2 linked regions of the Homo sapiens genome follow. The protein of the gene in region 2 interacts with the protein of the main gene of each other region in a pairwise test. Each region holds a gene or a part of one and is shown on either strand. Other genes may lie near its edges.

Region 1 (3,823 bases), on a different chromosome or scaffold from region 2:
ATCTTAATCTTTGTATTCCCAGCACCTAGTGTTGATCCTGGTCCCTAGCAATTGCTGAATACATGTTTGTTAACTGAATAATGTGTTCCTTTGTGGAACCAGCAGATTTGTACGTATTCCCTTAATTATCTTCCCTGCTTTGATTGGTTCTTTTTTCCTATTCTTTATAATACTTAATGTATTGTGTTTCTGGAAAGATTGGTCTTCCCAACTAGAGCGTAATTTGCTTTGTGGTAAGAACCTTTTCTTTCTTTCTCTGAGGGGGAACCCAGTCTCACTCTGTCACCCAGGTTGGAGTGCAGTGGCTTAATCTCAGCTCACTGCAACCTCAAACTCCTGGGTTCAAGTGATCCTCCTACCTCAGCCTCCCAGGTAGCTGGGACTACAGGTACATGTGCCATCACATTCAGCTAGTTTTTGTATTTTTTGTGGAGACAGGGTTTCCCTATGTTGCCCAGGCTGGTCTCAAGCTCCTGAGCTCAAGCGATCTGTGTGCCTTGGCCTCCCAAAGTGCTGGGATTACAGGTGTGAGCCATGGCGCCCAGCCCAAGAACCTTTTCTTTATTTCCTTTTTTTTTTTTTTGAGGTGGAGTTTCACTCTTGTCACATAGGCTGGAGTGCAGTGGCACAATCTCGGCTCACTGCAACCTCTACCTCCCAGGTTCAAGCAATTCTCCTGCCTCAGCCTTCCGAGTAGATGGGATTACAGGTGCCTGCCACCACACCCGGCTAATTTTTTTTATTTTTATTTTTTGGAGATGGAGTCTTGCTCTGTTGCCCAGGCTGGAGTGCAGTGGTGCAATCTCGGCTCACTACAACCTCTGCTTCCTGGGTTCAAGCAGTTCTCTGCATCAGCCTCCCAAGTAGCTGGGATTATAGGTGCTTGCCACCACGCCCAGCTAATTTTTGTATTTTTAGTGGAGATGAGGTTTCACTGTCTTGGCCAGGCTGGTCTTGAACTCCTGACCTTGTGATCCACCTACCTTGGCCTCTTAAAGTGCTGGGATTACAGGCATGAACCACCGCGCCTGGCTAACTTTTTGTATTTTTAGTAGAGATGGGGTTTCACTATGTTGGCTAGGCTGGTCTCAAACTTCTGATCTCAGGTGATCTGTCCACCTCGGCCCCCCAAATTGCTGGGATTACAGGCATGAGCCACCGCGCCTTGCCTCCAATAACCTTTCTTAAAGCTTTGTATGTACTTAGGAAATTGTGCAGAAATTAATAACATAAGCTATGAGGCTGAGGAAGGGATTAAACTTGCTTGAAGGGTATCTTGTGATGGAGATGTGGGTGTCAAAACTAGGCTCATCCCTGCCTCTTTGTATCCTTAGCCCACTTATAAGAAGCGAAGGTTGGATGAGTGTGAAGAAGCCTTCCAAGGTAAGAGGCACCCTTACCTCACCTCCCCTCACCCCATCCCTGACTTGCAACCCTGAGAAGCAGGATGGATCTAGTGTTCTCCTGACCAGGAGGCAAGATCTAATCTTACTTCCCAGAGGTAGCATTCCCAGCTCCTCCAAACGTGCTTGTTATTGAGTGCTCTAAACCTGGTTTTCCAATAAACAGAGGATTTAAGACTTTTGTTATGTTTTAGACGCTCATCTGTAGTTCTTTTTTTCCATACATTCTCGTTGATTCTAATAGTGGTGTCATGGTAGGATTGTGACAAAGGCAGAGGTCATAGCATCTGATAGGTATAGGGAAAATGAGAGAGAGGCAGGGGATGCTGTGTCCTTCCCTCTTCCCTGATCATTTGACCTTCACATCTCTGCCAGGAACCAAGGTGTTTGTGATGCCCAATGGGATGCTGAAAAGCAACCAGCAGCTGGTGGACATTATTGAGAAAGTGAAACCTGAGATCCGGCTGTTGATTGAGAAATGTAACACGGTGAGGCACAGGCTGGTGACCTATGGGCCGGCCCCAAGTACCCCACCTGAAGTGCAAAAAACAGTGGATGTACGGGTGGTATGGGAATTGGCAGACTAGGTTTTTTTGAGTTTTTTTTTTGAGATGGGGTCTCGCTCCATCACCCAGGTTGGAGTGCAGTGGCGCCATCTCGGCTCACTGCAACCTCTGCCTCCTGGGTTCAAGTGATTCTCCTGCCTCAGCCTCCCGAGTAGCTGGGATTACAGGTACCTGCCAACACACCCAGCTACTTTTTGTATTTTTAGTAGAGACGGGGTTTCACCATTTTGGCCATGGTTAGCCAGGCTGGTCTCGAACTCCTGACCTCAGGTGATCCACCCGCTTCGGGGTCCCAAATTGCTGGGATTACCGGCATGAGCCACCATGCCTGGCCAGACTAGGTATTTTGACTTCTGTGTTCCTGGCATCTGGCTCCAGCCGTCTGAATTGTGTACTTCATGGCTTCAGCCTTCAGGCAAAGGTCCTCATATATGTTTTGACCTCCAGGTCAAAATGTGGGTACAGCTCCTGATTCCCAGGATAGAAGATGGAAACAACTTTGGGGTGTCCATTCAGGTAATGTACTTGAATTACATACTGGGAAGAGTGGCTTGGGAGATACTCTCATCTCCCCTGCGTTACCTTTTTTTCCTTTTTCTTTGGGGCTGCTGTGGATGACATGGAAGTGGCTTTTGATGCACCTGTTGTTTGTTTGTTTTAGGAGGAAACAGTTGCAGAGCTAAGAACTGTTGAGAGTGAAGCTGCATCTTATCTGGACCAGATTTCTAGGTAGGGCTGCTTGGGCTTGGCCGAGGCGTTGGGGGCTGATGAGGTGGTGGGCACCATCAAGGGTCTCCTGCATCTTCCTCCTCTTCTCTCTCTTTCCAGATATTATATTACAAGAGCCAAATTGGTTTCTAAAATAGCTAAATATCCCCATGTGGTAAGTAAGGGGTTTGTGGCCTGAGGGTGGAGGTGGCAGGATAGTGAAGAGTGACTGTTACTGGGAAGGAGCTGTCTGGAAACAATTGGGCTTTGGGGACTAGCTTTTTCCTGTACCCTCCTTGCAGGAGGACTATCGCCGCACCGTGACAGAGATTGATGAGAAAGAATATATCAGCCTTCGGCTCATCATATCAGAGCTGAGGAATCAATATGTGAGTAATCTCAGTCCTTGTCCATAGTTGCTGTGGCTTCTCTTAGTTCTGTTGAGAGTATTGTTAAAATTCTCTGAAGGGCTGAGATGAGGGTCTGAGGTAAAATGAATAGACCAAATTCTATTCATCACCTGAGTGTTGAGAACCATGAAGTCATCTAGCAGGGTATCTCTCTTTTTTCTACCTGAGTGGAGGGGTGTGCAGTACAATATGGTTAAGATATAGGTGTCAGAGTCAGACAGACTTAGGTTTGCAACCAGGCTCTACCTGTGTTGTGTGACCTCGAGCAAATTGTTCAAGCTTAAACTTCAATTTCTTCTTTAAAATGGGACTGGGCTGGGCGCAGTGGCTAATGCCTGTAATCCCACCACTTTGGGAGGCCAAGCCGGGTGGATCACCTGAGGTCAGGAGTTCGAGACCAGCCTGATCAACATGGCGAAAGCTCGTCTCTACTAAAAATACAAAATTAGCCGGGCCTGGTGGCACATGTCTGTAATCCCAGCTACTTGGGAGGCTGAGGCAGGAGAATCACTTGAACCCGGGAGTTGGAGGTTGCGGTGAGCCAAGATTGCTCCATTGCACTCCAGCCTGGGCAACAAGAGCGAAACTCCATCTCAAAAAAAAAATAAAAATAGGCTGTAATCCCAGCACTTTGGGAGGCCAAGGTGGGTGGATCACTTGAGGTCAGGAGTTCGAGACCAGCCTTACCAACATGGAAAAACCCCATCTTTACTAAAAAAAAAAAAAAAAAATTTAG
Region 2 (3,600 bases):
CAGGCTTCCCAATGTCTGTACCACAAAGTTGAAAGTCTTTTGGCCGGACATTGAAGATTGTCTACAATCTAGCTTCATCCACATTTCTAACATTACCCCATCTTCCTGACACCCCACGTATGTTCCTACCTTTGTACTTGAACTTGCACTGATTTTTTTGGGGGGGAAAGGGAGGTGGGACGGAGTCTCGCTCTGTCGCCCAGGCTGGAGTGCGGTGGCGCGATCTGGGCTCAATGCAAGCTCTGCCTCCCGGGTCCACGCCATTCTCCTGCCTCAGCCTCCTGAGTAGCTGAGACTACAGGGGCCCGCCACCACGCCCGGCGTGTGTGTGTGTGTGTGTGTGTGTGTGTGTGTGTGTGTGTGTGTGTGTATTTTTAGTAGAGACAGGGTTTCACCGTGTTAGCCAGGATGAACTTGCACTGATCTCTTTACCAGGCTTCCCCTTAACCCTCTGCGCAGAAATTCGGGGTTTTTCTTTGTGTTTGAGACAAGAGTCTCCCTCGGTCTCCCAGACTGGAGTGCACTGGCGCAATCACGGCTCACTGCAGCCTCAACTTCCAGGGCACAAGCCATCCTTTTGCCCAGCCTCCTGTGTAGCTGGGACTACTCGGGAGTCCCATCTACTCCCGTGCGCTGCCATCACGCCCAGCTAATCTTTGTATTTTTTGTAGAGACAGCACCTCACTATGTTGCCCAGGCTGGTCTCCAACTCTTACGCTCAAGCGATCCTCCCCCTCGGCCTCTCAAAGGCGTAAGCCACCGCGGCCAGCCTTTTTTGGAACTTAAAAAAAAAGCCATAATGTGTCATTAGGAACCTTGGTGACATGACAGCAAAACCAAAATGTACTTATTTATTAGGTGTCACTTGGAAGCGCAATTTTCAACAACGCAAAACTATAAAAAAAACCCAACGTCGGCCTCCACAGGCTAATCAGTCTCCGAGGCACTGACGGCGGGAGAGATGAAAACGCGAAGGCCAGAGGAGAAAAAGAGGAAGGATTTGCAGAGAGAACGGTAACGTGGTGGACATGAATACACCCAAGAAACCCGGATCCCGCGCGGCACATTGGGACGAAGCGCGCTGGCGGGCGGCCAGCAACTCTGGGCCAGGGGAAGGAGGCGGACACCCAGCCCGAGAGCCGAAATCGGCCCCAGTGGACGCTTTCATCTTCGCGGCCCAGAAACACTCCTATTTTTCACCGCACAATGCAAACATGGTGGACCAGAAAATCCGCCCCGCGTTTGCCGGTCGAACCACGTGGGGCCCTTTCCGCGCCGTCGATGCCTAGCCAGGGCGGGGCCCTCACAGAATTTGTTCACGGTGGGGGCAGATCACCGGAGAACTTCTCCAGAGCGCTACGGCACGGTTCCTTCTACACACTGGCAGAACTGCCATTGCCATCGCCCCGAGGCGGCAGAATGGTACGCTCTGAAAACTGGATGGTTCTAACGTAAGCAAGAAAAACGGTGCGCGCTGCAGCTCTTTAACTGGAACAGCCTCTGCTCGGTCTACCTCGCCCCCAACAGCTGCGCAACCCACCACCGCGCAGGCGCGCTGCGTGCCGCCAGCGCCATGCGAAACCGACTTTCCCGTCTCGCGAGAGTGGGGCCGGCCGCCTTCGCAGTTCTCGCTCCGCCCCCCACTTCTTGCTCGTTCCCTCCCATCCCCCCAAGCCAGTAGCTGTGCTGCGCAGCTCCCTAAGCGGTTGTCACCGCTGGAGACGGTTGGGAGAACCGTTGTGGCGAGCGCTACACGAGGCAAACGACTTCTCCCTTCTTTGAACTGGACCCCGCGAGCACCAGAGTCGGCGTAACTATCGCCTGACAGGGTATCTGAAGTAAAAGGGGGTAGGTTGGGCTGGTGGTTTCGAGAGCGGAGTCGGGAGAAGGACGAAAGGCCGGGAGGGGCTGGGTTGGGGGGTAGTGGGGTGGTCGCCGCTCGGAGGCCGCCGCTTGGAAGCGGCGGGGCTGCGCCTCCCCGACCATCTCCCACTTCAGGGAGGGCGGCTTGCCGATGGGAGGACTTGCTCAGGTGGAATTCAGTGGACGACGCCGAGGCCCGAAGTAGGGGACATCCAGCATTTTCCCCTTTCCCTGCTGGCTTGGCCTCCGCCATTTTGGGTACAGTGGCGCGGCCACCTCGGCTTCCCGCCCTTCCCCGCTCTTTTTACTTTTTTGTTCCCCAGCTTCCGAAAACTGATCTAGAAGGCCAGGGGAGGGGGTGGTCAAAGCTCCCTGGAAGGGATGAGGGTGGGTAGTGAAGCGAGCAGGGAAAGGCCGGGCAGTTGGGTGGAGGGAGGATCGGGTTTGCCGGGCGCGCTCCCGATGGAAATGGCGCCGGATGGGCCTGGCCTCCCACCGCGGCCTCCCTTCCTCCGCAGTCTCGGCAGGGCTACCTGGGCTGACGGGACTGCGAGTGACTTCTGACGCAGATTCCCAAGATGAGAGAGGCTGGAGCTGGGGGAGGAAAGCCAATGGCGACGAAGGTGCTCAACTCCCAAATCCAGGACAAAGGAGGCAGACGGCCTCCTTTGTAATTCTGCCGCCCGGTGGCGAAGGGTTTTAAGCCAGGCTTGGCTGCTGACGGGAGGGGGAAGGGGCGTACTCTCCCTAGCTTTCTGGTCTCTAGGGCAGCTAGATAAACGGAAAGTCTCCTGGGAGGAATAAAGGACGCTTAGCCGGCCCTTATATTCCAGATTTGGAACTTCGAAAAGAGTACGTACTGATTTTCCAAAGGGTTTTTTTTTTTTCATGTTTAAACGTTAATAAGGACTTCGGGGATGATTTTGTGAGCAGAAAAGTGGGTGATTTATCAAATAGGAATGTGAAATGGGCATGTTTCAAGTAGGTCGTCTGGGCCCAGTGAACTATAATTGTTGCTTTTTGAACTTTCGGGGTGGGGGTGGGTGATGTAGCAATTGTTTTGCGTAGTTTGGCGTATATATGTTAGAATTTGTTTTTAAGTTTTACTTTTGGGAAACAGTTAAAACAACCCAGTGATGGTAGATGTGTGTGTATTGAAATTGAGCTTTCGATGTTAAATCTTCCAAGAGTTGTATTTTGTGCAGTTTTTTTTTCCGATGGCATTAAGGCTCTAGAAGTAAAATACTTCAAAATACGGTTATGGTTTATTTTCTTTTGGTAGCTAGGCATGTTTTTTCTTTAGTGTAGGAGTATAGTACACTGTAATCGTATTTTAAACAAGGGAATAAGCCTACTAAACATAAAAACAAATTGTAAACCCAGTCACGTGGTGGTGGTGTGATTCGGATGAGGGTCCTGAGAACTGGATCCGTAATTTTCATTGAAGACAGTACAAAAGGGAGGAGAAAGGCCTGAGAGTAAGAATTTCTGATAATTCATGTAAAACTTTATAAGAATATTGTTACCTACTTTTCCAGCTCTAAAAACAAAAACTTATTATTATTGAAGATGTTCAGTGATGCTTTCTCAAGATTGCCAAGGAAAAGTTTACGAAAATCTTACCTTGAAACAGTAGGTTTGAGTGACCCTTTGAAGAGATAGTCCAGACTGTCCTGTAAAGTTATATATGATATAACAAATAGCTTTACTAATTGGATTGGACTACACATCTTTTTT

Evidence for each region. The genes of interacting proteins can lie anywhere in the genome.
Region 1: the proteins of HNRNPH3 (region 2) and PSME3 interact in binary tests that used the Homo sapiens proteins (3 or more experiments, as listed by UniProt).

Annotation. Positions count from the first base shown.
Region 1 is NC_000017.11:42,836,315-42,840,137, forward strand, and holds part of PSME3 (proteasome activator complex subunit 3), read left to right. Parts: intron 1-1,334; coding exon 1,335-1,383; intron 1,384-1,778; coding exon 1,779-1,891; intron 1,892-2,377; coding exon of another isoform or gene 2,378-2,416; coding exon 2,417-2,485; intron 2,486-2,630; coding exon 2,631-2,698; intron 2,699-2,797; coding exon 2,798-2,852; intron 2,853-2,979; coding exon 2,980-3,066; intron 3,067-3,823. UniProt on the Homo sapiens protein: Subunit of the 11S REG-gamma (also called PA28-gamma) proteasome regulator, a doughnut-shaped homoheptamer which associates with the proteasome. 11S REG-gamma activates the trypsin-like catalytic subunit of the proteasome but inhibits the chymotrypsin-like and postglutamyl-preferring (PGPH) subunits.
Region 2 is NC_000010.11:68,330,388-68,333,987, forward strand, and holds the start of HNRNPH3 (heterogeneous nuclear ribonucleoprotein H3), read left to right. Parts: upstream 1-1,676; 5' UTR 1,677-1,829; exon of another isoform or gene 1,830-1,848; intron 1,849-2,396; exon of another isoform or gene 2,397-2,715; intron 2,716-3,600.